7 linked regions of the Homo sapiens genome follow. The protein of the gene in region 2 purifies or fractionates together with the protein of the main gene of each other region. This does not show direct contact. Each region holds a gene or a part of one and is shown on either strand. Other genes may lie near its edges. The genes, in order: THADA, TRIM66, TRIML1, BICRA, MCM3AP, PHLDA1 and CRYBG3.

Region 1 (2,844 bases), on a different chromosome or scaffold from region 2:
TTGAATAATTAGGATGGAATGTGTAGGTCACTGCAGGACTTAACACATGCAGACAATAAAAATAAATTATTTGTGCAAAGTTGATCCTGAATTCTCCCAGGATCCAACATTTGGAACATATTTCTGCTTTGCTAAAATGGAACAAAATTCACAAATCTGACCAAATGGGCTGTTTGCCAACTAATCCAGCCCCTACATAAAGCCAGAAAAGGGGAGAGGGGAGGGATCATGTGTATGTGCTAAAATCCAACTCTCTGTAGTCATTTCACAGAGAATGCAGGGCGGCTATGGCAGGGCATTAGAGGCCCTGGGGGATGAAAAAGGCTCATTCAGGCCTGCAGGTGGCCTGCACCTGGGGACAGAGTAAATCTGCAACGGAGTCGCCTCACTTCCTACAGTAGCAGCAATAAAATAGGCTGCCCTGAATGAGTGAACTGAAGAAAAGTTTCTCTGTAAGGAGTGACAGACGACTGGACTCACAGAAGTAGGGGAGGCATGAATGGGATAAAATTTTTGAATTTATGTTCAACATGTTTCCTGCAGATTTAGTGGAGGAAAAATCCACACATACCCCCATCCCAATCCCCCAGATTTTCTTCAACATGCCGCTTCTGTTCTTGGAAGAGTTAACTGCCTCGATTCTGCATAAGAGTCCCAAACACTGAGAACTAGGGTGTCTTCCCCTTCCTTTCCTTCCAAAAAGGCCAGCAGCCTCAAGCAAGCCAAAGTCCTTTCCTCTTGAATGCGTAGTCTTGTGAACTCCACTGTCTTCACAAACTCAGCAGCTGGTGGAAGCTCTCTGAAGAACTGAGACAGGAGGTGGCACTGCTCTGACACCATCCTTTGAAGGTGACAGAGCATCTCAGGGCTTGGGGGACGCCAGCCGGACTTTGAGAGGAGACAGAAGAGGTGCTTGCAGAGGTATTTCACAAAGATCAGGGTCTCGGCCCAAAAGTTGACTTCTGCTTTTTCAAACAGGTAGTCTTCTTCCACCTAAATCAGATGAAAAAGCCGAAAGTCAGTCTTACAGGGAATGGTGACAAGCCCCAGTCCAGACCAAGCAGTACCCTGCCAGATGCAAGAGGGGTTTCCCTTCCCCCACCTGACAGAGGGTGCACTCTTGCCTGTCAACATCCATGTACACACACCACTTGCAGCCTTGAAGGTCACCTTCTATTTTCACTCACTGTATTTCTCCACCAGAGAGGAATTTTTTCCCCAGACTTAACATGACCTTGGATAAAGATGTGTTTGTGGTTCAAAGTCAAGATACTTTGGGGGATGGATGCTGAAAAGGGGACTTCAACAAGGGAGTGGGCTCTAGAGTTTAAGGTGCAGCTGGAAATTGGAGAGGAGGGAGGAAAGGTCATCTCTGCAGCAGGCCAGAGAGGAAGGAATCTCCAAACACAGGACACTAGGCTGTGTCCTGTTTCTATAACACTGTGATTCTCAAGGTCCTTTTGTCAGACACTTACCATGTCTCCAAATTTCTCATAAAGAGGGACAATGCGTTTTGAACCCTTGGCCTGCTGGGGATGCCAAGAAGGCCAGCTGAGTCAGATGCTGGTGGCGATCAATTTCAGTTCTCAGGATGCTTTTGCTGCTTGTCTTTGTCCTCAGTTTCCCTATCTGTGACTGCACCCACCCTGGAGGGGGCTAATAATAGTTTTCTTCAAGCAGGAAGTTCCCAGCAAAGATCCTAATTCTCTGAAAATGCTTCACCCTCAGACCTAACTTTGGGAAGCCCCAGGCTAACTCCAATACTGACTAACAAGCAGTCTCCATAATAAAACTCTCCGCATCCAGGGGCTTCTTTTTTTCTTTTCTTTTCTTTTCTTTTTTTTTTGAGATGGAGTCTTGCTCTGTTGCCCAGGCTGGAGTGCAGTGGTGCAATCTCGGCTCACTGCAACCTCCGCCTCCCAGGTTCACGCCATTCTCCTGCCTCAGCCTCCCGAGTAGCTGGGACTACAGGCACCCACCACCATGCCCGGCTAATTTTTTGTATTTTTAGTAGAGACGGGGTTTCACCGTGTTAGCCAGGATGGTCTCGATCTCCTGACCTCATGATCCGCCTGCCTTGGCCTCCCAAAGTGCTGGGATTACAAGCATGAGCCGCTGTGCCCGGCCAGGGGCTTCTTTCCGAGTTCTCTCCCCTGGCTAAGCTGGAGGCTGACCATCAGCACCCCAGAAGTCAGCCTAAGAGTGTCCCCGTGTCCTCGGCAGCACCCAGTGGGTGACTTTCCTAGTGGTTCCTGCTCTGTGTCTAAGCATGCAAAAGCCCAGCTGAGGCTGTAGGTGCTGCATCTAGCGGGTTTAGGACACTCCAACCCTGCCTCCTACTCCCCTGACACCCCGGGATCACCTGATGCATGCTCTCCACACAGGCCACGAGGTCATCACTCTCTCCCAACAGCCATCCCAGCAGGATGGGCAGTCCAGGGGCCAACTGGTCCCACTGCTGGAGCAGATCACACAGGACGGCCAGGGCCAGGGCCAGAGCGATGGAGGCATCCACCTGGCAGAAGGCAAACTCTGCAAAGACAGGAGAAAGGTGAGCAATGAATATACTGCTCAGGGCCGACCCCAGGGCAGCCTGCAGGACCCTGGGAACAATAAAGGCCTCAGGTAAAATCGCTGCCACCAGCCTGGCAGGGAAGCTGGTAGGGTGGGCTCACTGGAGACGATTAATCACCTTCTGAATCCTGCTATTTATACTGTTAGAATGAGTCATAGGCCTGAACCCACTGTTTCCATGCCCCCTAACTCAGTGTGGACAGAAGCAGTTCCATCTGCAGGATTAGAGAGTTATCTCCCCTCTGCTCCTCCAGTGTCACCAGAAGGATC
Region 2 (2,563 bases):
TCTGAAGAAAACTAAAAATAATAAAAATAAGAAGCAGGCTGGGCGTGGTGGCTCACGCCTGTAATTCCAGCACTTTGGGAGGCTGAGGCGGGCAGATCACAAGGTCAAGAGATTGAGACCATCCTGGCCAACATGGTGAAACTCCACCTCTACTAAAAATACAAAAAATTAGCTGGGCGTGGTGGTGCGCACCTGTAGTCCCAGCTACTTGGGAGCCTGAGGCAGGAGGATCGCTTGAACCTGGAAGGCGGAGGTTGCAGTGAGCCGAGATCGCGCCACTGCACTCCAGCCTGGCGACAGGGTGAGACTCCCGTCTCAAAAAACAAAACAAAAAATAATAAGAAGAAGAAAAAGCAGAGAGGTGAGTTCTTCCCTAGAGAGAAAGGCTTCCCAGGCTATTCTTCCCCACCTTGAGTTCTTATGATGTAGAGATCTAGGGGCAAGAAGACCATGTGATAGGTTCAACTATCTTCGCTGAAAAACACTCCAGGACGCAATTCTTGGTAAAGAAAAGTGCTGTTTTTTATTTGTTCTTGAATGTATAGGTTCTTTTAAAATCAGCTATACTTCCCTTTAAAATATCCTCCCTCATGCCCCAACCGCTTAGAATCCAATAGCCACTCCTAACAAGGGCCTAGGAGGAACTCATCCTACATAGCCAAGAAAGGGGTACAGCTTGAGGAATGGGCATATGGCTCAGGAAGCAGCACCAGCTGATAAGAACTTTCCCCAAAGCAGCTCTGTTTGGCTTGTGAGTCTCCTTTCCCTGCCCTGGTCTGGACTCCCCCAGCTGTGTCCCACCCCTGGAATTCCCCTGTTCCTTATGTGGCCTGATCTTGAGAGTTAAAATCATAATTAACATCTTTACAGCTGGAGAGCTGAGAGATCACTGTTCTCAGCCATTCTCCCACCACAACTTTATAGATGAGGAAACTGTATCCAAGGTTACACAGCTCATAATGGAAAGAGCCAAAAATTTTGGTGTTCAGACTCTCAAATCAGATATCTTTCTAGTATATACCTCCTTACCTCCAAGAAAGCAACCAATAGCTGCCTCCAACTCCAGAAACAACTGGAGCAAGCAGGTGGTGGTGATCAGCACAGGTGGGAAAGGCCCTGATATAAGGAGTCATGCTGACTCCAGCTGAGCCCCAGCAAGGGAGCAGCCACCGCGCTCCCTAGTCTCCCTCCATCCGAATGTTATCAGCAGCAGGCACCCACCCTGCCAGGTTCTCCTCCTGGTTAGCAGCACTGACATGCACGGAAACACATCTTACCACAATCCCAGGCTCCTTCCCAACTACAGCAGGCTCTAACTGGTGCAGGATCATGGTGAGGAGCTGCCCACCAGCCTGGTAATCCAGTTTAGCCAGACTGCGGCCTGGATGCTGTAAAACCTAATCCACACCCTTGGGCTGACTTAGATGGGGTCTCTTAGCAAACAGGCTAAAACCTCTGTGTTGTCTGGGAGAGACAGAGGGAAGGACTCACAGATGCTGTCCTCCCAGCAGGAGCTCATAAACATGGTTGGCATGAGGAGAACTGAGTTCAGGAAAAGGAAGGGACTCAGGAAATAGAGAGACAGACAGAGGAAGCAGGAGCAGCTGTGATTCTTCCTCCCTACCCAACTCCTGAAAAGAAGAGACCACAGACAGCCACAGACATTTCCCCCATCTAGGTTTCAAGGACAGCTCAGCCTGTGTGGGCTGAGAGGTAAGAGGAGAGAATCCAGAGACTTGTTTTTCTGGATTCTCTGAGAATCCAGAGACTTGTGGTGTCATAAAAGCTAAGGGAGGAGGTTGTTTCACTGAGGGTTGGTGGGTGGTGTGAAATGCTGCGGAGAGGTCAAGACAGCTGAGCACTGAAAGGTATTCATTCTATTTGGCAACTGGGCAGTCACTGGTGACTTTTATGAAAAAGTATAGAGGGCTGAAGAACAGCTGAGGAAGAATCAGTTTAAAAAGGATCTTTTTAAAAGTAACTTGGTTAACAAGGAAAATGTGTAAGGGGTAACAGACTCTGAGAAATGCTGTTTTAATCTTGTGGAGAACTTGTTTGCAGGCTGTGTGGAGGTAACCAGTGGAGACAGAGGCTGGAGACTCCAGGGAGTGGGAGCAGTGGAGTAAGCGAGGGAGCAGTCTTGGAGGACATACAACAGGATTCAAGATATAGAGAATTAAATAGGAGCAAGAATGGAGGGGTTGGGGAGAGTTACAGACACAGATGAATGAGAGGGGAGAGAGGAACAGCAGGCAAGGAAGCTCTTGCTTTAGGGGCTGTCTTCTGTGAAGTAGACAGTGAGCTCAGTCATTTGTGGAGGACAAAGATGGAGGCATGGGTGGGGAAAAAAAAAGGGATCACAACAAGTTAAAGAATTTCCAGTCAACACTGAGAGCTCAACTGAGGCTGCCAACTGTGAATCTGTCATGCATAGCAGCCCAGGAGGTGGAAGCAGCAAATATGATGATGCCGAAAATGGAGAATGGCTGATAGTTTCAGCAAAATTGAAGGGGATACGCCTGGCGCAGTGGCTCACGCCTGTAATCCCAGCACTTTGGGAGGC
Region 3 (3,990 bases), on a different chromosome or scaffold from region 2:
CACACACACACACACACACACACACACACACACGAGATAAAGTTAGTAAGAGAAATGCCCTTGTCTGTAGATTTTTAATCCTTACAAGTCCTAGAGTTTCTTTCTTTCTTTTTTTTTTTTTTTTTGAGATGGAGTCTCACTCTGTCGCCAGTCTGAAGTGCAGTGGCGCAATCTCGGCTCACTGCAACCTCTGCCTCCTGAGTTCAAATGATTCTCCTGCCTCAGCCTCCTGAGTAGCTGGGACTATAGTCTAGGAGTGTGCCACCACGCCCAGCTAATTTTTGTATTTTTAGTAAAGATGGGGTTTCACCATGTTGGTCAGGATTGTCTCAAGTCTCTTGACCGGGTGACCCACCCTCCTCAGCCTCCCAAAGTGCTGGGATTACAGGTGTGGGCCACCATGCCTGGCCAAGTCCTAGAGTTTCATGGCAACAATTCCTGAAATCCAACATATAATACATTTAATCTGTTGATGCGCTGGGTGTAGAGGTTGATGTTTTCGGAGGTATGTGCGCTATAGATACAATAGTAAACAAAACCAAAATCTCCATTCCCAGGAGGCGGTCGTTCTAGTGGAGAAAACCAAAAATGAGTAAGAAATATGACAAGTAGTGATCAGGACTATGATACAAATAAAACAAAATTAAGAAAAATTATGAAAAATGTGTGTTCATTTATTCAACAAATATTTATTCAATGAAAGTAGGTGTCAGATAACCAAAAAGGAACAGAAACATACATGGCAAATACTCTCACTTAAGAATTCAAAGTCTACGGCCAAGCACGGTGGCTCACACCTGTAATCCCAGCACTTTGGGAGACCGAGACAGGTGGATTACCTGAGGTCGGGAGTTCGAGATCAGCCTGGCTAACATGGTAAAACCCCATCTCCACAAATATACAAAATTAGCTGGGCATGGTGGCACACGTCTGTAATCCCAGCTACTCAGAAGGCTGAGGCAGGAGAATCACTTGAACCCGGGAGGTGGAGGTTGCAGTGAGCCGGGATCGCGCCACTGCACTCCAGCCTGGGCGACAGAGAGAGACTCCATCTCCAAAAAAAAAAAAAAAAAAACAGATTTCAAAGTCTATTGGGAGAATCAGATACATGGTTTTAAAAAATATATAATTTGATATTTAGTCCTTTGCTTTGACTGCTGGAGAGCTCAAATCCAAGTCCGTGACCAACCTTGAGGACTTGTCAGGTATCATTTAAACCACTATTTTGCTTTTATATCTCTGTCTCTTTATTTTTTTTAATTTGCATTTTCCCCTCCATGTTTTTGAGATATTTCTTTTTAAAATCGCTTTCCGTCTCATGTTACATGTCTATAAGTATCACTTGTGTTTTAAATAATTCTACCAGAGCCATCATAGAGGAAGCCACAGCGTTGTCTAGTTATGCAAAGGAGGCTCCTAGAGGGGGCGAATTGCAGCTGAGCCTTGAGACTCCCACGAGGACGCTCAGAAGAAGGCAGCCCAATGCAAGGAAACTGCATATTTTAGAGGTGAGACTGGAAAAATTTGTCTTTTTTTTTTCCTGATATTTCACTAAATTTCCCTTTAGTCCCCCTTATGGGGTCATATACAAGCAGCAAAAGTCAGACAGACACCGACCTGGCACAGTTTCACTCTCTCCTTCTCATGGGTTAGTACAGCCTGAGCTTCCTTTCTCCTTACACGCAAAAGATTCAGGATTTCCTGGAGTTTCTCCTGCAATAGAAACAAACCCTTTCTGGCAAATGAGCAGAGTCCCAGGTCATGAAGGGGCTTTGAAGACCAGTAACTGCGCAGTCCTAGGCCTCTAAAACAAAGGGCAGGCTGGGTGCGGCGCCTCACGCCTGTAATCCCAGCACTTTGGGAGGCCGAGGCAGGCGGATCACCTGAGGTCAGGAGTTCAAGACCAGCCTGGCCAACATGGTGAAACCCCGTCTCTATTAAAAATACAAAAAATTAGCCGGGCGTGGTGGTGGGTGACTGTAGTCCCAGCTACTGGGGAGGCTGAGGCAGGAGAATGGCGTGAACCTGGGAGGCGGAGGTTGCAGTGACTGAGATCGCACTGCTGCACTCCAGCCTGGGCAACAGAGCAAAACTCTGTCTCAAAAACAAAAAAAGGGAAAAAAAAGGGTGTAAACTGGACCCACGCCAGTTTGTGATGTGGTGCTCAGATGGGCCCTCGTGACTGTCCCCCACAGAGGACGTTAGGAAACGTCAGGAAAGCTAACGGAGTTAGCTGCGATGAGTCGTGGGGTTCATGCTGAGCAGCTGTCTTACTCTGTGATGCTCCTCAGCCTCGCTGGAGAGATGCACTCTGTTTGCACCATGGCTCTGGGCTACGAAGGCGCTTCCACCCTGCTCGTCATCGGAGAGCGCCTTGGCAGTGGTGGGCATCCTCCCGTAGCTGCCCTGCTCATCCTCGCTCTGCAGCACCTGGGACCGGAGCTGCCTGGCGATGCTGGCCAGCCTCCCCAGACGCTCGTTTGACTGGAAATGCGGGCCCTCCAAGGTCCTCCAGCACTCAGGACAAGATAAAGGTGTGTTATGTTCCTCCCAGCTCCTGAGGAGACACACCAGACAAAAGCTGTGCCCACACTCGGTGGTCACTGGGCTGCTGAAATAGTCTAAGCAGATGAAACAGGTGAGTTCCTCCCTGAGGTTCTCCATCAGATCTGCTGTAGACATTTTCTCGAGGCTGGATATGCAGCCAGGTTACACCTCTGTTCTGGGATTAGCAAAGCCCTCACTGCCGTCCTACAGTTTTGAGTAACACGCGGGTGACCTGTTCCTATGTTGTTATGACAAGAAACCCTTATCTCTTCTGTGCCTGATTTCACCAGCTGACATACACTGTCCAACACAAAGCCAATTATGACTTAATGTGGAACTCCTGTATACTGGGCTCCTCACCAACCCCAAACTTTGAGACTTATCTCTGTGAAAAGCACACATGCTAGAGGCTGAGGATTCTGGCTTCTAACAGGATTACCATTTTGAGAACTGGTTATTGTACATAAACAGCACTGTGGAACCATGTGAGCATGTGGGTTTTAGGCTGGAAGCTTGGGTGATTTGGTGTAAACCAGTAAAGAGATTTGAGTTTTGATGATCTCTAATAATATCTGAATTGGAAATTTGGTCCAAATCTTTTGGGAACTCCACTAATAAAACCTAGTTGAGAACTGAGAGAAGAAAACTGTAATACATAGTCCTTTTCTCATTAGCCCCTTTTGTTCTGCTTGACCAAAGCCTAAGCTTTTGTTCCTTTATTGGGTACTGTGTACTTTTATTTAATTTTATTCATCCCAACAAAATGAGAGCTCTTCCACTGAAGTATTCCTTGGTGTTAGGCGCACGATGAATTGCCAGAGCTGTTTATTGATCTTCCCTGCACACCCTAGTACTCACCCATCTGCCATCTTGGAAAGCATCTAAAATGACATTCTAATTGGAAGTTGCCTCAAGAGGCTATCCCACTATGGAGCAGATGGAAAGAATTATATTTTAGTATAAATGTAATTTTGCTCACTTATTTTCACCCATTGAAAATTTCCAAACTAGGCCCCTTCAAATCCCTGATTATCAGTTCTTACTGGACAGAAATGAAGTGTGCAGACATTTTTTCGGACATATGAAAAAGTAAATGCCTAGTGTGGAGACTGTGCACAGTGAACTCCGAGATTGGTAACAAATGCCACAAATTCACTGTGTCCCCTGCTCGGGAGTCAGCTCCTGTCCTGGCCTGCCTTCTGCTCACTGCATGCCAGGAAGTTGCACCTCAAAAGCTCTTCCTCAAAGGCCAGCGAGTTTGACCTTCCCACGAACTCATCACGCCATATTTCTGTCTCCGTCCCCTCACTCTCCAGCTTGGCAGCCTTCCACGAGTCGGGTCCATTACTCAGGCTGTTCCGTTCATTGGTTTCTGACTTTCAAGGCTCCAACTGCTACTTCTTTCCCACTTACCTCCAACAGGATGTTGGATGTTTTCTTATC
Region 4 (4,040 bases), on a different chromosome or scaffold from region 2:
AGGCCATTGCACTCCAGCCTGGGCAACACAGCGAGACTCTGTCTCAAAAAAAAAAAAAAATTAAATGCCACCAGTTGACATTCCTCCCCTGTGCCCACACTGCGTACCCGGCCTGCTGAATGATAAATATGAATGACACGTTTGGATAATACTTTTACCCACCTCCAGGTCACTTAAAGGAACTATAATTACCCCCACTTGCAGATGAGAAAACAGGACCAGCAGTTAAATGACCTGCCTAAGGTTACAGAGTGGATCATGCCAAGGAGAACAGGCAAGAAAGTTCTCCGCTAGCTGCATCAAAGGGCCATGGTGTGGCAAAGCGACAGCGGGTCACAGGGCATAGGAACAACCAGACATCAACATTCCCAAACAGTTCAGCTTCTCTCTTCTCTACTTCAGGGCTGAGTAGCAGCAAATGGGGCCAAGTCCCCCGCTCAGGTAGAGAAGGGAGAAGATGACAGTGGGGCCAGCTCCCAGGTACCCCGAGCCCATCACTGGCCAGGCCTGGGGCTCCCCCTCCCCCACTCCTCACACACCTTCAGTTCTCAGTTCCTGCAGACAATTCTCCATTCCAGCCACAAGTGAAATGATCCTGCCCTCAGCCCAACTTCGAGGTGCATCTTACCCCTTCTCAAAACCAGCTCCCAGGGAAAAAAAAAATCTGGCCGCTTCTTCTAAATATTATCTACATTTCCGAACCAGGTCCACTGAAGTCAGGGGGACAAAATGCCAAAGGGTGGGACAGAAGAAGGGCTTAACAGTTTTGAGCCAAGCTGGAAAAACTCCAGGAGGTTACAAATTGGGGCTCTGTGTGACCCAGGGCTGTGTGACCCTGGGCAAGCTTCTTAACCTCTCTGAGCCTCCATGAACCTGTCTGGAAAACGGGAATGTCTGTCCCGTCTCTATTTCCTCCTTGGACTGTGGCCAGCGTGTAATGTACTTAGCAGCAGCGGAATAAAGCTCCCTAGTTTGATATTGTTATTAATATTTCCATCTTGAGCGGGGAGCTATGAGGGAAGGCAAGGGAGGTCAACATGTCCCAAAAGTCCTACCAGTGCATGGGAAGGGGGTGCTTCCTGAGTTGTCTTCCCATTTTCTCATGACCCAGGGCAGGTCAGAGTTGACAATACCCCCCACACCCACCCCAGGTGCTGGGAGAGGTTAAAAGCACAGAGAGCTTATCATGAATCTCAGGCCTTGATGCCTTGGATGTTTCTAGTTTCCCTTTCAAGTGCCCTCCGTAAAGAGGTGTAAGAGAAAGGCACCCCTAGATCTGTATTATACTATGGGGTGGGTAGGTAGGTGTGTGTGTGGGGGGGGGGTGACAAAAGGGGACGATGGTCAGGACATGGGCCTGGGCACAGACTGCAGCCCACCAGGATGGGGACACCAGAGAGCTAGGACCTGTCACCTGGGCCTCCCCGGGAGAGCTGACACCGCGGCCTCTGACCCCACCTCCCGGGAAGTTCAGCTGCTCAGAACCACAAAGCAAAACAAAGGGGCGCGGAGAGGAAGAAGCCGCAGTGCCTCCCAATCACCGCCGGCGCCCGAGCCCGAGCCTAGCTCTCCCGCGGCTCCTTGCCCGGTCCTCCCGGCTGGCCGCGCACCAAGGCCCAAGCAGCCCCTGGTCCCTCGTCTCCCCGCGGCCGCCCGTGACAGGAGTCGGGGAAGCAGACGAGGGGCAGCCAGGGATGGGAAAACCAGATGGCTCCATCCCTCCTCCCTCCTCCTCCATCCCTCCCTCCGGGTGCCCGCGGCCTGGCTGCCCTCCGCAGGGGCCCGGGGAGGCCGCAGGCCCAGCTCGTCCGGGCTCACCCCGGGGAAAGGGCTGCCTTTGTCTAAAGGTCACCACCCGAGCGCGGTGCCCCGGCCGGGCCTGGTGCCTCCCGTTCCCAGGCCGAGGGGTAGGAGATGGGGGGCCGCCCCGAACCTCGGGAAGTGACAGGAGGCGCTCACCCCCCCCACCCCCGTAACGGCCCCCTCCGGGATGAGCCTCAGCTGGGGGTGGGGGAGGGGGTCACCTCCCTCTATTGCCGGGGGCTGGGGGTCAAGTCAACTCCTTTCATTGTTTAGGGGCGGTGCGAAGGGGGGAGCCCCGGTGGCCTCCTTCCCCATCCATCCCTCCCCAGCTTTCCAGGGCCCCCCACTGTCCGCGACACCCACGGGAGGGATTTGGGGAGGGGGCGCAGGGGCCGAGCGAGGCGGGGAGATGCAGGCTCTCCGCCTCCGGCCGGGAGATCACCGCCCGCTGCCCGGTGGCCTTCGCCTTCCCCGAAAGGCGGGGAGCGGGGCGAGGGGAGGGGGCCGGGACGGGGAGGGGGTCTCCGCGCCCCTCCCCCCGTGGAACGTTAGGTCTCCTCTCTCCGCCGCTCCATTGTATCCCCGGCAGCCGGCGGGAGGGCCGGGGAGGCACTGGGCGCCGGGTCTGGGCAGGGAAGCCGGTTGGGGGGGGGTCCCCATAGGATCGGGGCGGCGGCGGTGGTGGAAGAGACGCGGGGCTGGGGGTGCCGGTGGCGGTGGGCGCCGAGCAGGAAAAAAAAAAAAAAAAAAAAAAGGAGGCAGCGGGCGCTGCGCCCCGGCTGGGGGGCTGAGTGTGAGAGTGTCGCGGGGGTGGGTTCGGCCCCGGCTCCGGCTCCCCCCACACACACCCTCGCCGCCAACCCCCACTCCCCCCTCGCTTTTGCGCCCTGTCACAGCCCCGACTCGCAGGTAGAGAGAGTTAAGAGATTTAAAGAGAAATTGCTACATTGTGAGAAACTCACCCTGATGTTTGAGCAGCCGTCGGCGCGGGGTCTCCGAGACGGCCCCGCACGGGCTGCAAAGGGAGGACCCAGAAGGGGCCGGCCGGCCGGGCCGGTCAGCGCACTGCCTGATCGCATGGCGGCCGCTCGGCAGCCGCTGCCGGGCCCCCGCCGCCGCCCCGCGCCCAGGCCCGCGCGCCCCGGGCCCGCGCCCGTTCCGGGGAGCGCCCCTCGGGTATGCAAAAAAAAAAAAAATTTTTTTTAATTAAATGCAAACGGAAAAAAAAAAAAAAAAACCTCTCAGGTTTTGTGTTCCGCCCCCCACCCCCTTCCTCCTCCTCCTCCTCCTCCTCTTCCCTCCGCCCTCGCCGGAGGAGGGGCTTCAGGAATCCCCGCCCCGCGTCCGGGCGGACCAGCCCCGGCCCCGCCAGGCCGAGCGGCGGGACCCGGAGCCAATGGGAGGCTGCGGACGTCCGGGGACTGGGCCCTCCGCGCCGGCGCCGCCCCCGCCCCCAGCCCCAGTCCCGGGGGTTCAGGGGCGCGCCTGCTCGAGCTCGGGTGTAGTTTGTCGACTGCCTCGAGCCCTGATCCGGATGCTGGGGCGCGGGGGAGCTGAAGGGATCCGCGCTCCCAGACCGCCGGTCCGGCTGGGGAGGGGGCGCCGTGCGTCCTGGGCGCGTCCCCTGAGGCGGAGGACGGTCGTCCGGCGGGAGGACGCGTCCAGGGGGAGCGCCGCAGGTCCGAAAAGATAGCGGGAGTCGAGGATGAAGGAAATGGAGGGGATGGAGGGGAGTTCCCCCCGGAGGTGGGACCGCGCCGGAGCCCAGAGTTGGAGCCTGACAGGGTGGAAGGCGGCGGGGACTTCGGGGTGACAGGCCGGGACCCCAGGCGTGGCTCGATCACTCACCCTAGCTGGTCTCCGTCGAGCCACGGCGGCGCCGGGGAGGCGGGTCGGGCCTGCCTCGGAGCCTGTCCCCGGCCGCTCTGGCCGCGCTGATGGGATTCCCAGAAGCCCCAGGACGCCGCGGTGGTGTCGGGTCCGTTTCCGCCCCACCAGGCCGTAAACGCCCTGCTGGCGGGACACGGATTCACGCGTTGCCCTTAGCGAGCGCTTGGTGAGCGCCCACTGTGTGCGCTGCGCAGTGCTGGGGGCCCAGTGGGGACACAGAGCCCCCGGACCTGCCCTCCCGATGCTTGCAGCCCAGGGAGATTTATACTTTGTTTTAGTCCCTTCTGCCTCCCCAGTGCCCTAGAAAAGCTCGTGCACACAGTAGGTGAATGCGGGTTGAATAAATG
Region 5 (2,989 bases), on a different chromosome or scaffold from region 2:
CTGAACTCAAGTGATGTGCACACCTCAGCCTCCCAAAGTGCTGGGATTATAGGCATGAGTCACCACACCCAGCCTTAAGCCTTTGCTTTTTACTAAGAATATAACTAAGTTATGACATCAACTGAGAAGCAGAAATGTACTTATTAAAAATTTAACAACTTCCTATGATAAAGCTTAATTTAAAAAAAAAAACTAGGCTGGGCTCGGTGGCTCATGCCTGTAATCCCAACACTTTGGGAGGCCGAGGCGGGCAGATCACCTGAGGTCAGGAGTTCAAGATCAGCCTGATCAACATGGTGAAACCCCGTCTCTACTAAAAATACAAAAATTAGCCAGGCATGGTGACACGTGCCTGTAATCCCAGCTACTTGGGAGGCTGAGGCAGGAGAACTGCCTGAACCCGGGAGGCGGAGGTTGCAGTGAGCCAGATCACGCCATTGCACTCCAGCCAGGGCAACAAGAGCAAAACTCCATCTCAAAAAAAAAAAAAAAAAAATTAGAGAAACCACTTCCCTTTAATTTATAAATCCAATTCCAATTTATATTTAATGAAAAAGGTGGTATTAATCCAAAAACAACTGCTTCGATGTGTTACTTAACATTACTTGTAATTGTCTTGTTTGGCTTATCTTATTTAATTTACTTTGGTTTTATGCATCTATAATTAATTCTTCTGACATTTTCCAAATGAGTGGATTGCTGCTTATAGCTTAAAATTAACTCAAAATAATATCCCACTGCCACCTAACATACTCTAGAGCTGTCTACTTCCATATACCGGTCTTTTCAAGAAAAACAATCTTGGCCAGGTGCAGTGGCTCATGCCTGTAATCCCAGCACTTTGGGAGGCCAAGGCAGGTGGATCACCTGAGGTCAGGAGTTCAAGACCAGCCTGGCCAACATGGTGAAACTGCGTCTCTACTAAAAATACAAAAATCAGCCAGGCATGGTGATGGGTACCTGTAGTCCCAGCTACTTGGGAGGCTGGGGCAGGAGAACTGCTTGAACCTGGGAGGTGGAGGTTGCAGTGAGTCGAGATTGTGCCACTGCACTCTAGCCTGGGCAACAGAGCGAGACTCTATCTAATAAAAAGGAAAAAAAAATCTCATCCCAAACCACTTAAATTATAGAGACTGATTTTAGTAATCGGACACATTCATTCACCCTTCCAAAACATATTCATTAAGCCTCCTCCAGATGCTAGGCATCATTCTAGGTACAAGGAATATTGCACTGAAACAAAACAGAGGCCCTGCCCTAAGCAATTTATACTTTAGTGAGGAGAGACAGACAAGGAACACATAACAAGAGAAACATGGTTTGAAGATGAGAAAGACAAAGCAGAGCCATGGAAACAAGAAGGTCGGAGATGGGCAAGCAGGGCCTAACAGAAGCAGACATTTGAGTAGAGATCTGAAGTGAGTACAAGATCAGCCATGGGGATGCTGGGGAGAATGGAGGGGCTGGACAGTCCTAGGCAAAAGGAACAGCAAACTCAGAGGCCCAACTGTGAACTGCCTACCATGCTCAAGGAAGGAGCGGAGGTCAGAGAGGAAATGGGGGGCAGATCACTCAGGGCCCTGGCCACCCCTGCAAAGTTTGCCTTTGATTGCAGGTGAAAGAGGGAAACCACTGAGAGGCTGTAAGCAAGCAAGTGACACGACCTCCATCTTAACTCACTTGAAAGGCACCCACCAGGTCTACCAAGACTAAACTGCAGCCTACTGTAATAATCCAGAAGGAAGATGATAGTGGCTTGAGCCACGTGGTGGCCATGGAAGTCATAACAAGTGGTCCAATTCTGAATGTATTTTCAATAGAGCCAATAGGATATGTGAATGGGCTGATGTGAGGGGATGATTCCAAGGCACCTGATCTAGGCAGCTGGAAGGATGGAGCCGCCATCAACAGAGATGACCACCAAAGGAAGGGGTTGGTTGGAAGAAAGCCGGGAACTGGATTTGGGATATGTTAACTTTGCAGTGGCTACCAGACATCCAATAGGTGTCTAATGAAGATTTCAAGGAAGCAGTAGCATGTTCAAGTGTGGAGTTCAGAGGTTTGAGATACAAATTTGGAGCTGTCAGAATAGTGATGTTACTTAAAAATCCATGAAACTGGATGAAATTTCTGAGGAGTAGGTACAGACGATGCAGAGGAGAGGTTGAGAGAATGAATCCAGGGGGCAGCTGGGGGATGAGGAGGAACCAGCAGGGCAGGAGGGGGACCACGGACATCCTAGGAGCAAGGAGGGGAGGATCAAGTATGGGATGCTACCAAGGACTGGGATTCACGGTCATGTTCAACCCTGGGCCTTCATCCCCATGGGAAAGAAGGCTGAAGAAGTGAGTATCACAAGCGTTTTTGAGGAGTTTTACCATTAAGAGGGCAGAAACATGAAGTGGTGGCTAAAGAGGGAAGTGGGACCAAGACAGGGAGGCATGTTTCATGTCTGTGTGCTGCTGATGGGCACCACCTAATATGGGGAGGGGTGGTAGCACGAGAGAGATACTCATTGAATGAATGTCCTTGGGTAGGTGGGAGATGAGATCCCAGCCCAGGGAAGGGCTGACTGACTACGAGCTGCATGGTTCGTTTCCAGCAACAAGAGGCGTCAGGAAGGGGATATAGGGAGGATGCTGGATGTGGCTGGGAGGGCAGGGAAGGCAGAGGACAACCTGTGGAAGGTCCCTTATTCCTGATTCTACTCAGTAAAATGGTAAACATGGCCATCAAATGAAAGCAAAGGAAAGGTATGCATGGGAGGGAGGGAAGTGGGCAATGTAGAGGAGGGGCAGCCCCAGCTCCTGTCCATTCACAGCATGGGATGATCCACCAATGCCTCAGGCTCCCAAGGGCAGGGTGCCTGTGGCCAGCCATAGTGTTCAGCACTCACCATCTTCTGAGCAGACTTAACCACATGAATTTCCCAGAAAAACTTAACACTGACTTTCAATAATAAATAATAAATGAAATTCACTTCAATATA
Region 6 (4,060 bases), on a different chromosome or scaffold from region 2:
AAAAGCAAAACAGTTGGTTTCTCTGATCAACATCATTTTCAGTATGAAAACAAAAGTTATGACTCCTAGACCTTTGAAATATTTACAAATTGTACTTTAAACAACGAGATTTTTCAGTGTGCTTCTAAAACAAAGTAAAGGGATCAGAAAATGTGGTTCAAGTCAAGTGTGCAAAGCTCTCGAAGAAAGGTCCTGCAGCCTGGACAGGAGTACAAATATTCTCTTATACAAGTTAAATGTACTCTTTTCCTCCACAACATTTTTGAAATGAAACAGCAAATGCATTTATACTCACAAATCAGTCAAAAGGCCTCTTCTCCTTATTAAGCCCTTTACACACAGATGATAAAAGCAAGGTTTTCCTACAATAGATGTGGCCCTACCACATATTCAAGATACAATCATCCTACCATCAGTTAGGTTATGCTTTAAATATTTTGAAATCAGGTATCCTTAACTACTGATTTCCTTTTAGAAACTATCTTGAGTGTTAGATTTTCATAATTACACCATTTTTAACTTTTAGCTTTTTAAACTTCTAGACAAACTATATGTTTAAGCAAAAACAAAAATAAAAATCCTCAAAAAAAGTAATATCAGAGTTTTAATTTCAACCAGCTGGCACAACAATGAAAGTGTCAGACTTTCTGAAAGTACTCGAGAAATAATGAATAAATTCTTAATGTTTTCCCCTCCACCGCCCTTTTTTATTCTCCAAGATTAGGAATTACTACGGATTAGGTTTTTGAAAATAAAGTTTCCTTTTTGGAAAATGGTCTACATTCAGAAATGTCTTAGAACAAGCATTTAAAAAAAAACTAATAAATAATCATAAATCAAAATACATTAAAATAAAATTACAGTACATCATCGCTCCTAGAAAATTCACCATACAAGACGATCCTTTCAAAGGTTCATAAATAAAAGTCTTCTTGACTCGAAATCGTTTCCTGCATCGTGATGAAAAGTATGCAGAAAACTAAGAAGAATCGCAAGTTTTCAGTAGGGTGATGTCCAAACTACTTGATCTGGTGCGGGGCGGAGAGACTGTTTTGCTTTTGATCCAAGTGAAGACAATAGAAATGTGCTCGTCCCACTTCCTCAAGTCCTCAAAACCTGGAAAGAAATGACACCGAGTGAAGTAGGTGGCTAAGAACCCTCCGAGACCAGTTCTGTTCGGGCCAGTCCGCCTGACAAAGCGGGCTCAGAAAGACACCGTGGTGTTTCCCTCAACTGCCCAAACATATAGTCAAGTGGGGCTGGGGGACGCACCACGGGACAAGGACGGTCGTGATGGGCGCGGGCGCGGGCGCGGTCCGCGAGGCCCCCTGCCTGGCCCGGATCTCCCCAGCCTCCCCTCTCTGCCCAGCTCTCCTGGCCCCAGCTTGTTTCTGTTTCTTCCATTGCCCCAGAAACTTGGTATGAGTTTTGATTTCTCCATACAGGAGCCGAACCTGTGAACAAGCTTCCTACTCCTCCCAACTCACTACCCCCGAGACCCACTCCTCGGGAGCGCGAGTGCCGGGACCTTACCTTGTCTTGCCCGGGAGCTGCCCCTTTCAGGCAGAGTTGGAGGTGCTGCGGAGAAGCCGGTGCCCGTGCGGCTGCGAGTGCGGCTGTGGGTGTGGGTGCGGTATTTGGTGCGGATGCGGGTGCGGGTGAGGGTGTGGGTGCGAGTGAGGATGAGAGTGTGGATGTGGATGTGGATGCGGATACGGGTGGAGCTGCTGGGGCTGAGGCTTGGGTTGGGGCTGAGGCTGGGGTTGTGATTGGGGCTGGGGTTGCGGCTGAGGCTGAGGCTGGGGTTGGGGCTGGAGCTGCGGCTGCGGCTGCGGCTGCGAGGGGGGCTGCTGCTGGACCAGGTGCTGCTGCTTCTGCCGCGTGGATTTGACCGCCAGGATGGCCTGACGATTCTTGTACTGCACCATCTGCAGCGTGATCTCGGCGTTCCAGCCCTGGTCTTGCGGGCACCGAAAGTCGATCTCCTTGCCCTCTGCCATCACCACAGTGAAGTACATGTACTTGCCCTTGCGCTCCACACAGTCCACGGTCTTCATGTTGGAGAAGTGCAGTTCCTTGAGCTTGACCGGCGGCTCGAGGCTGGCGACAGCGGGGCCACTGGGTTGGGACGGCTCGGCCGGCCCCTGCCCGGGCTGTTGTTGCTGCTGCTGCTGCTGCTGTTGCTGCTGCTGCTGCTGGTGTTGCAGCTGCTTGGGCGGGATAAGCAGCAGCCCTTCCTCGGTGAGGATGCAACACTTTTTCTTCCAGAGCTGCAACAACCCGTCGCTGCGCTTCTCCAGCACGCCCTCCTTCAGCGCTTTGCAGCCGCTACTCTCCAGCATCCTCCCAGCATAAGAGGGGCCGCCGCTTGGCTCGGCCTCTCCGTTTCCAGCCGCGCGGGCCGGGGGCAGCAGCAGCAGCCTCGCGCCGTCCTCGCCCCAGCGGCTCCCACGGCCGCCTGCCCGGAGCGCGCAGAGGAGGCTAACACGCAGGAGGCAGAGCGGCGGCGGCGGCTCTGGGTCCCGGCAGAGGGACAGCCGCGTCCTGATGCGCCACAAGGTCCCGGAGCTCCGAGCTGCCGGGCCTCTGCCGTCCTCTTGCGAGCGCTCACTGAAGGGCACTGGCCGGGCCCCCTCGCGGCGCTTTTGAATGGGCCATCTTCCCCACCCCCGAGTGACACCCAGCGGAAAAGGCGGCTCCTGGCGCCCGCACCGCGGGGGAAAGCCCAGCTCCAAGAGGCGCTCGGCAGCCGGCGCACGCCTCATTAACTTGGGGCCTTTCCAAAGCCCGCTGCGTCCACGCCCTCCAGCGTCTCTTGCTCCGCCTCTCGCCGCCCACTTGCTTCCGCGCTCGTTCCCCTGGAAGGCGACCCGGACCCGAGCCCCGGAAACTCCTCTCCTCTACCCAGGGCGATCGCCCAAGGAGCCCTGGCTGCCTGACTACTGCCGACGCTCACAGGGCGCTGCGAGGCCATCCCCCGCGTCCCGCTTCTCCCCGGCCCGCGGGACTCTCTGCTAACAGCCTCAGAAAGTGAGGACGGGGGCGCGGAGGCGGGGGCAGCCTCCAGGCAGTGCTGCCTCTCGGTTCTTGGGAATTAGCCCGGGGGATTCGCGCTGGGCTCCGAGAGCCCGCAGAACCAGCGTCGTGTCCTGGGCGAGCTGGGAGGCCGGGGCCGAGTCCCGCGAGTCCCGCGAGTGTGCCTCCCCCGGACGCCTAGGTAAACAACTGAGCGCACAGAGGCCGAGAGGACATCGTGTCTTCCCACGCATATTCGCTCACGGTCACTAAGTAGCTCTTCTTGGAAAGAGGGCGATTGTTAAAGCAATAGTGCGACTGTCGGGCTTGCCACGGGTGGAGAGAGGCGGACCCACGTCAGGTCGCATCTCGCCTGCTTTTCTCGACCCCGACCGCAGGCGCTAACCCGTCTTCGGCTTTCTTCTTGACCCGTACGGTTTGCAACGTCTCTTAAAACAGTAACTCAACTCTCTACAAACCGGGGTAATATCCGGTGCTGAGATCCCACACTGCAAGGCGCAGTTCCAAACGTCTGGTCGGCCTCGCAGGTCCCTCTTTCCAAGGCCTAGCCAGATCTTGGTTTTGGAATCTCATTTATCTGTGACCTGGGGAATGCAATACCCCCAGCTCCCTCCTACTCCTACATTTAAACAATGCCTATAGAAGCCGCTTCCTGGGAAGTAAGGCATAACCGAGACCTAGCCTCCCGGTAGGGAAGTTCATCCGTTTAGTAAACAGCCCCAACTACGTGCGGACCCTCACGGGGATACGAAGAATTCAACCAGGGCTGGACAAGTCAGAGTGGGCCAAGGTAAGAGTTACGGCTGCTACTGTGCCCACGTTGGAACAGATAGATTAGTTCATCTGCTAGTTGTGTGGCAAGAGCAAAGAATTCAAGAGGGGAAGAGAAAGTGAGAGGAGCTTAGAGAGCTAAGCAAGAATCGAATCCTTTGTGTGTCATGGTAAGAAATTCGAACTTAATACCAAGGTAGTCAGAACAAAGGACAACTTTTATACACGAGGGCGTCCTGAATATTCATCTAAG
Region 7 (3,500 bases), on a different chromosome or scaffold from region 2:
GTCACCATGGCCCCAGGAAATCAAGAGACAGTGAAAACCAGTCCTCTTCTGTTTTATCCCTTCTCCAGTCAGTGTCAGAACGTTTAAAGATGAATTTTGATGAAGATGACAGAGAGGCAGCTGATGAGGAAGAAGAGGAGGAGGAGGCAGCAGTATTGCATAAAGGAGATCTGAGAGCTGGAAGTGGGGAGCGTGTTACCTTCCAGTTGCCAGATCCTTCCATCACATTTTACCCTGATGACCAGGAGAGCGTTGGAATTTCTAAGAATTCATATGTGATGCCAAATGAACCTACTACCTCCAATCTGCAAGTTGGTCTGTGGCCAGAAAAGACCTCGTTTCTCCAGAAATCTGACCTTACTTCTAAACTACATTCTTCTTTAAAGAGTGCTTATCATCAGTATCTGCAGACTTCCCAAAGTCATTCCTCAGAAAAAGGAGCCAGATTTGGTGGAATTTTTCAGGAACCAGTGTCAAAATATTTCCGTGTTCAAGACAGCCCAGGCAGATTGAGCCCATTTATAGAGGTAAGTTATTTTGTTTATTGTATTAATAATAGTTATTAAAGCTTTGGGTCACGAAATTATCTAAAGGCTTATTAAGAAAAGTCAATGTTTTGGCCAAGCATGGTGGCTCATGCCTGTAATCCTGGCACTTTGGGAGGCCGAGGCAGGTGGATCACGAGGTCAGGAGTTCAAGACCAGCCTGGCCAAGATGGTGAAACCTTGTCTCTACTAAAAATAAAAAATAATTAGCCGGGCATGGTGGCGGGCGCCTGTAATCCTAGCTACTGGGGAGGCTGAGGCAGAGAATGGCTTGAACCTGGGAGGTAGAGGTTGCAGTGAGCCAAGATCGCACCAGTGCACTCCAGTCTGGGCTATAGAGTGAGACTCCGTCTCAAACAAACAAAGCAAAAAAGAAAATGTTTTGAGGTTGTAGAAGTTGTATAAAGTTTGTTTCATAAAAATATCAGATTCTTTGGTTGAAATATATCATAACTCATGTATTTTAGCTGGACTACTTAGAAAAAAAAATTGCTTGGTCAGAATTTAAAAAGCATAATACTGAAGCAAGGTTATTTTGAAGTCTTTTGCTAATATTTTTCAAACTAAATTAAGTGACAACATTCCAAATTTCTCAAGGTACTGTATGTGGGAAAATTGTCACTTTGCATTTAGCTTATTAGTTTCATGAAAAATCTTTCTGTTAAGTAAAATTTTTAAGTATTTGACAGCAGCCTCGCACTACAACAACTCATGTTGTTCATGCAACGCAGGGCAGTGAGCAACCTAAATCAAACAAAAGAACTGAAAACTTTATAGCTGGAAAATGTTTTAAATTCAATTACAGTTTTCTTTGATTTAGAAATATTTAAATATTTAATGTAGAATGCTTATTAAATATGGGACTTTCCTTTCTGGCATTTCCAAGATCATGGTACTTTCAAGATAAAGATACAGGATGTCCAAGGCCTGTATTTTTACCTTAAACAATCTTCATGGCAAATAGTAATACTCAAAGACCAACCAAAACCTTGCAAAGCAAAGTCATTTTAAAAGAAATGATAGGATTTGAAGAAATATTTCTTTCATGGTTCTCCACTGCCTACCAAATCAAGTGGCACCTCTTAACTCTGCATTATAAGGCTCCCAAGTTCTGTTTTGCCAGCCTTGTCTCCCCACACTCTGGGTGCACACTCTGTGTTTCCTACCAGTACACTTTTCCCCAGGATGGTTCTCTTCCTAGAATTTCTTTATTCACTATCCCATCACAACCTGCCACATTTTCCACTCACTGAAATATTGTTTTTCAAGGTCCCTCAATACTACTTCCTCAGAAATGCCTCTTTGAACCTCTGTATGCCCTCACCTCCATGCTGGTGCCATTTCCATAACCTAGTGTTTTCCTTGTATTTTACCTGTGAATGTAACTTAGTCCCCTGGCTTAGTAGAGCTATGCAAATATGATCATCTGTTTGACCCATTCTAAGCTATGTACTTCTTGAGGGCAGAGACAATGTGTTAATTTCCTATATATTTGTATTTATATCACTTGTATCGAGAGAAGCACCTTGCTCATAATGATCACTAACTAAATATGTGATAAATTGGATACAAGACTGCTAAGAAAATGAATTATGCATCTTTTCACCGATGTTTCTTAAAGCTTACTTTTCCACTTTTATTATTTCAGAATGTTGACAAACAAACTCTGAGATGTAACCCAAGACCTGGGAAGGTAAGGATAACTTTCTCAAACTAAGATAAAGGTTAAACATTAGGTAACTTTCAGGCTTGAGGAATTTAATATAAGTGACTTAGATAATGATTTTATTCAAGGATTTAACATCTAAAGTAACATTTGCTTTTGTATATTTAGGATATTTATTTCTATGTTCTAGGACATTTTAGAATTTAAAATACATTCTAAAAATTAGTTATTGTAACTACTTACTGCTATTTACTGTGTTGCAGATGGTTATCTATGATCTCCATGAAAGTACATATAAACAAGAAGTCTACTGTAATATTCCTGATGCTACATCATGGTCTTTTCCAAATGGAGTTCTAATAAAAGTTGTAAGGGGCTGGTAAGAAGTTTCTTAAAATTTTATAGCATATTTTCTTAAATTAAATGTGTCTTCTTGCTGTTAATGCTTTTTTTTCTATTTTTTATTGAAGTCATATTCTCCTTCCTCTACTTTTCGACAGAAGATTTTGAAACATTATTATTAGTGTGTTATAACTTAATTGTTCTTTTTATTTACTATGGCATAAAATACAATCTGTTTTTAGTGCTTAAGCCAGTAAGTTGCAAGACCTAATCTATACAATCAATACCATTCTGTAACTACATTATTAGCAGGATAGATTTGGCAAGTTTGGGTGAATGCTTCAGTTGAATGAAGCATAGCTTTGAAAATGAGTTCAGAATTTGTGGGATGCTGAGGAATGTGAAGGCCACATAGTTAAAGTTGTTTGTATAGCTGACTTGCTCAAGAAGTGAAGGAATCTTTGTATGGTCTAAAAATGAGGGGCAACCCTATCTATTTATTATGGACCATGACCCATGGACATGCTGGAGCCAGAATTTATCTGTCCAGTGTTTAGGCTACCCAGGTCAGCATTCATGTCTTAAATCATATGGTGTAATCTCGTCTTCATATAATAAAATGGGACATGTGTCCTGTGTTATTCAGCAACAAGAAAATTAGAAGTATAATTTGGAATTGTTGCACTATTGTTTTTTATGCAACTGTATAGTTTCGTATAGACCACATCTATAAAGAGCATACATACATAAATATAGACATAGAAATATATTGTGGTACTATGTTCAGAAAGTATTTTTATTTCCAAGGTATATGCACTTTTATTTTTTCTTTACTGTTCGCCTGTACTTAAATTAGCATATATCATTGTTTCAAAAAATAGGGTTATATGCTAATAGTGGAAGATATCCCAGCTTAAAAAATTTAAGTAGACAAAATGGTCTGTGAC

Evidence for each region.
Region 1: the proteins of TRIM66 (region 2) and THADA purify together in Homo sapiens (affinity purification with mass spectrometry, with the first as the bait; one large-scale study listed by BioGRID). This does not show direct contact.
Region 3: the proteins of TRIM66 (region 2) and TRIML1 purify together in Homo sapiens (affinity purification with mass spectrometry, with the first as the bait; one large-scale study listed by BioGRID). This does not show direct contact.
Region 4: the proteins of TRIM66 (region 2) and BICRA purify together in Homo sapiens (affinity purification with mass spectrometry, with the first as the bait; one large-scale study listed by BioGRID). This does not show direct contact.
Region 5: the proteins of TRIM66 (region 2) and MCM3AP purify together in Homo sapiens (affinity purification with mass spectrometry, with the first as the bait; one large-scale study listed by BioGRID). This does not show direct contact.
Region 6: the proteins of TRIM66 (region 2) and PHLDA1 purify together in Homo sapiens (affinity purification with mass spectrometry, with the first as the bait; one large-scale study listed by BioGRID). This does not show direct contact.
Region 7: the proteins of TRIM66 (region 2) and CRYBG3 purify together in Homo sapiens (affinity purification with mass spectrometry, with the first as the bait; one large-scale study listed by BioGRID). This does not show direct contact.

What each region holds. Positions count from the first base shown.
Region 1 is NC_000002.12:43,230,351-43,233,194, forward strand, and holds the end of THADA (tRNA (32-2'-O)-methyltransferase regulator THADA), read right to left. Parts: intron 2,533-2,844; coding exon 2,363-2,532; intron 994-2,362; coding exon 598-993; 3' UTR 501-597; downstream 1-500. UniProt on the Homo sapiens protein: Together with methyltransferase FTSJ1, methylates the 2'-O-ribose of nucleotides at position 32 of the anticodon loop of substrate tRNAs.
Region 2 is NC_000011.10:8,611,540-8,614,102, forward strand, and holds the end of TRIM66 (tripartite motif-containing protein 66), read right to left. Parts: 3' UTR 501-2,563; downstream 1-500. UniProt on the Homo sapiens protein: May function as transcription repressor; The repressive effects are mediated, at least in part, by recruitment of deacetylase activity. May play a role as negative regulator of postmeiotic genes acting through CBX3 complex formation and centromere association.
Region 3 is NC_000004.12:188,138,251-188,142,240, reverse strand, and holds the start of TRIML1 (probable E3 ubiquitin-protein ligase TRIML1), read right to left. Parts: upstream 2,801-3,990; 5' UTR 2,683-2,800; coding exon 2,275-2,682; intron 1,714-2,274; coding exon 1,618-1,713; intron 1-1,617.
Region 4 is NC_000019.10:47,607,894-47,611,933, reverse strand, and holds the start of BICRA (BRD4-interacting chromatin-remodeling complex-associated protein), read right to left. Parts: upstream 2,801-4,040; 5' UTR 2,766-2,800; intron 1-2,765. UniProt on the Homo sapiens protein: Component of SWI/SNF chromatin remodeling subcomplex GBAF that carries out key enzymatic activities, changing chromatin structure by altering DNA-histone contacts within a nucleosome in an ATP-dependent manner.
Region 5 is NC_000021.9:46,237,623-46,240,611, forward strand, and holds part of MCM3AP (germinal-center associated nuclear protein), read right to left. Parts: intron 1-2,989.
Region 6 is NC_000012.12:76,028,977-76,033,036, forward strand, and holds the start of PHLDA1 (pleckstrin homology-like domain family A member 1), read right to left. Parts: upstream 2,801-4,060; 5' UTR 2,766-2,800; coding exon 1,560-2,765; 3' UTR 1,534-1,559; exon of another isoform or gene 1,518-1,533; intron 1,117-1,517; 3' UTR 1-1,116. UniProt on the Homo sapiens protein: Seems to be involved in regulation of apoptosis. May be involved in detachment-mediated programmed cell death. May mediate apoptosis during neuronal development. May be involved in regulation of anti-apoptotic effects of IGF1.
Region 7 is NC_000003.12:97,877,511-97,881,010, forward strand, and holds part of CRYBG3 (very large A-kinase anchor protein), read left to right. Parts: coding exon 1-527; intron 528-2,193; coding exon 2,194-2,238; intron 2,239-2,474; coding exon 2,475-2,590; intron 2,591-3,500.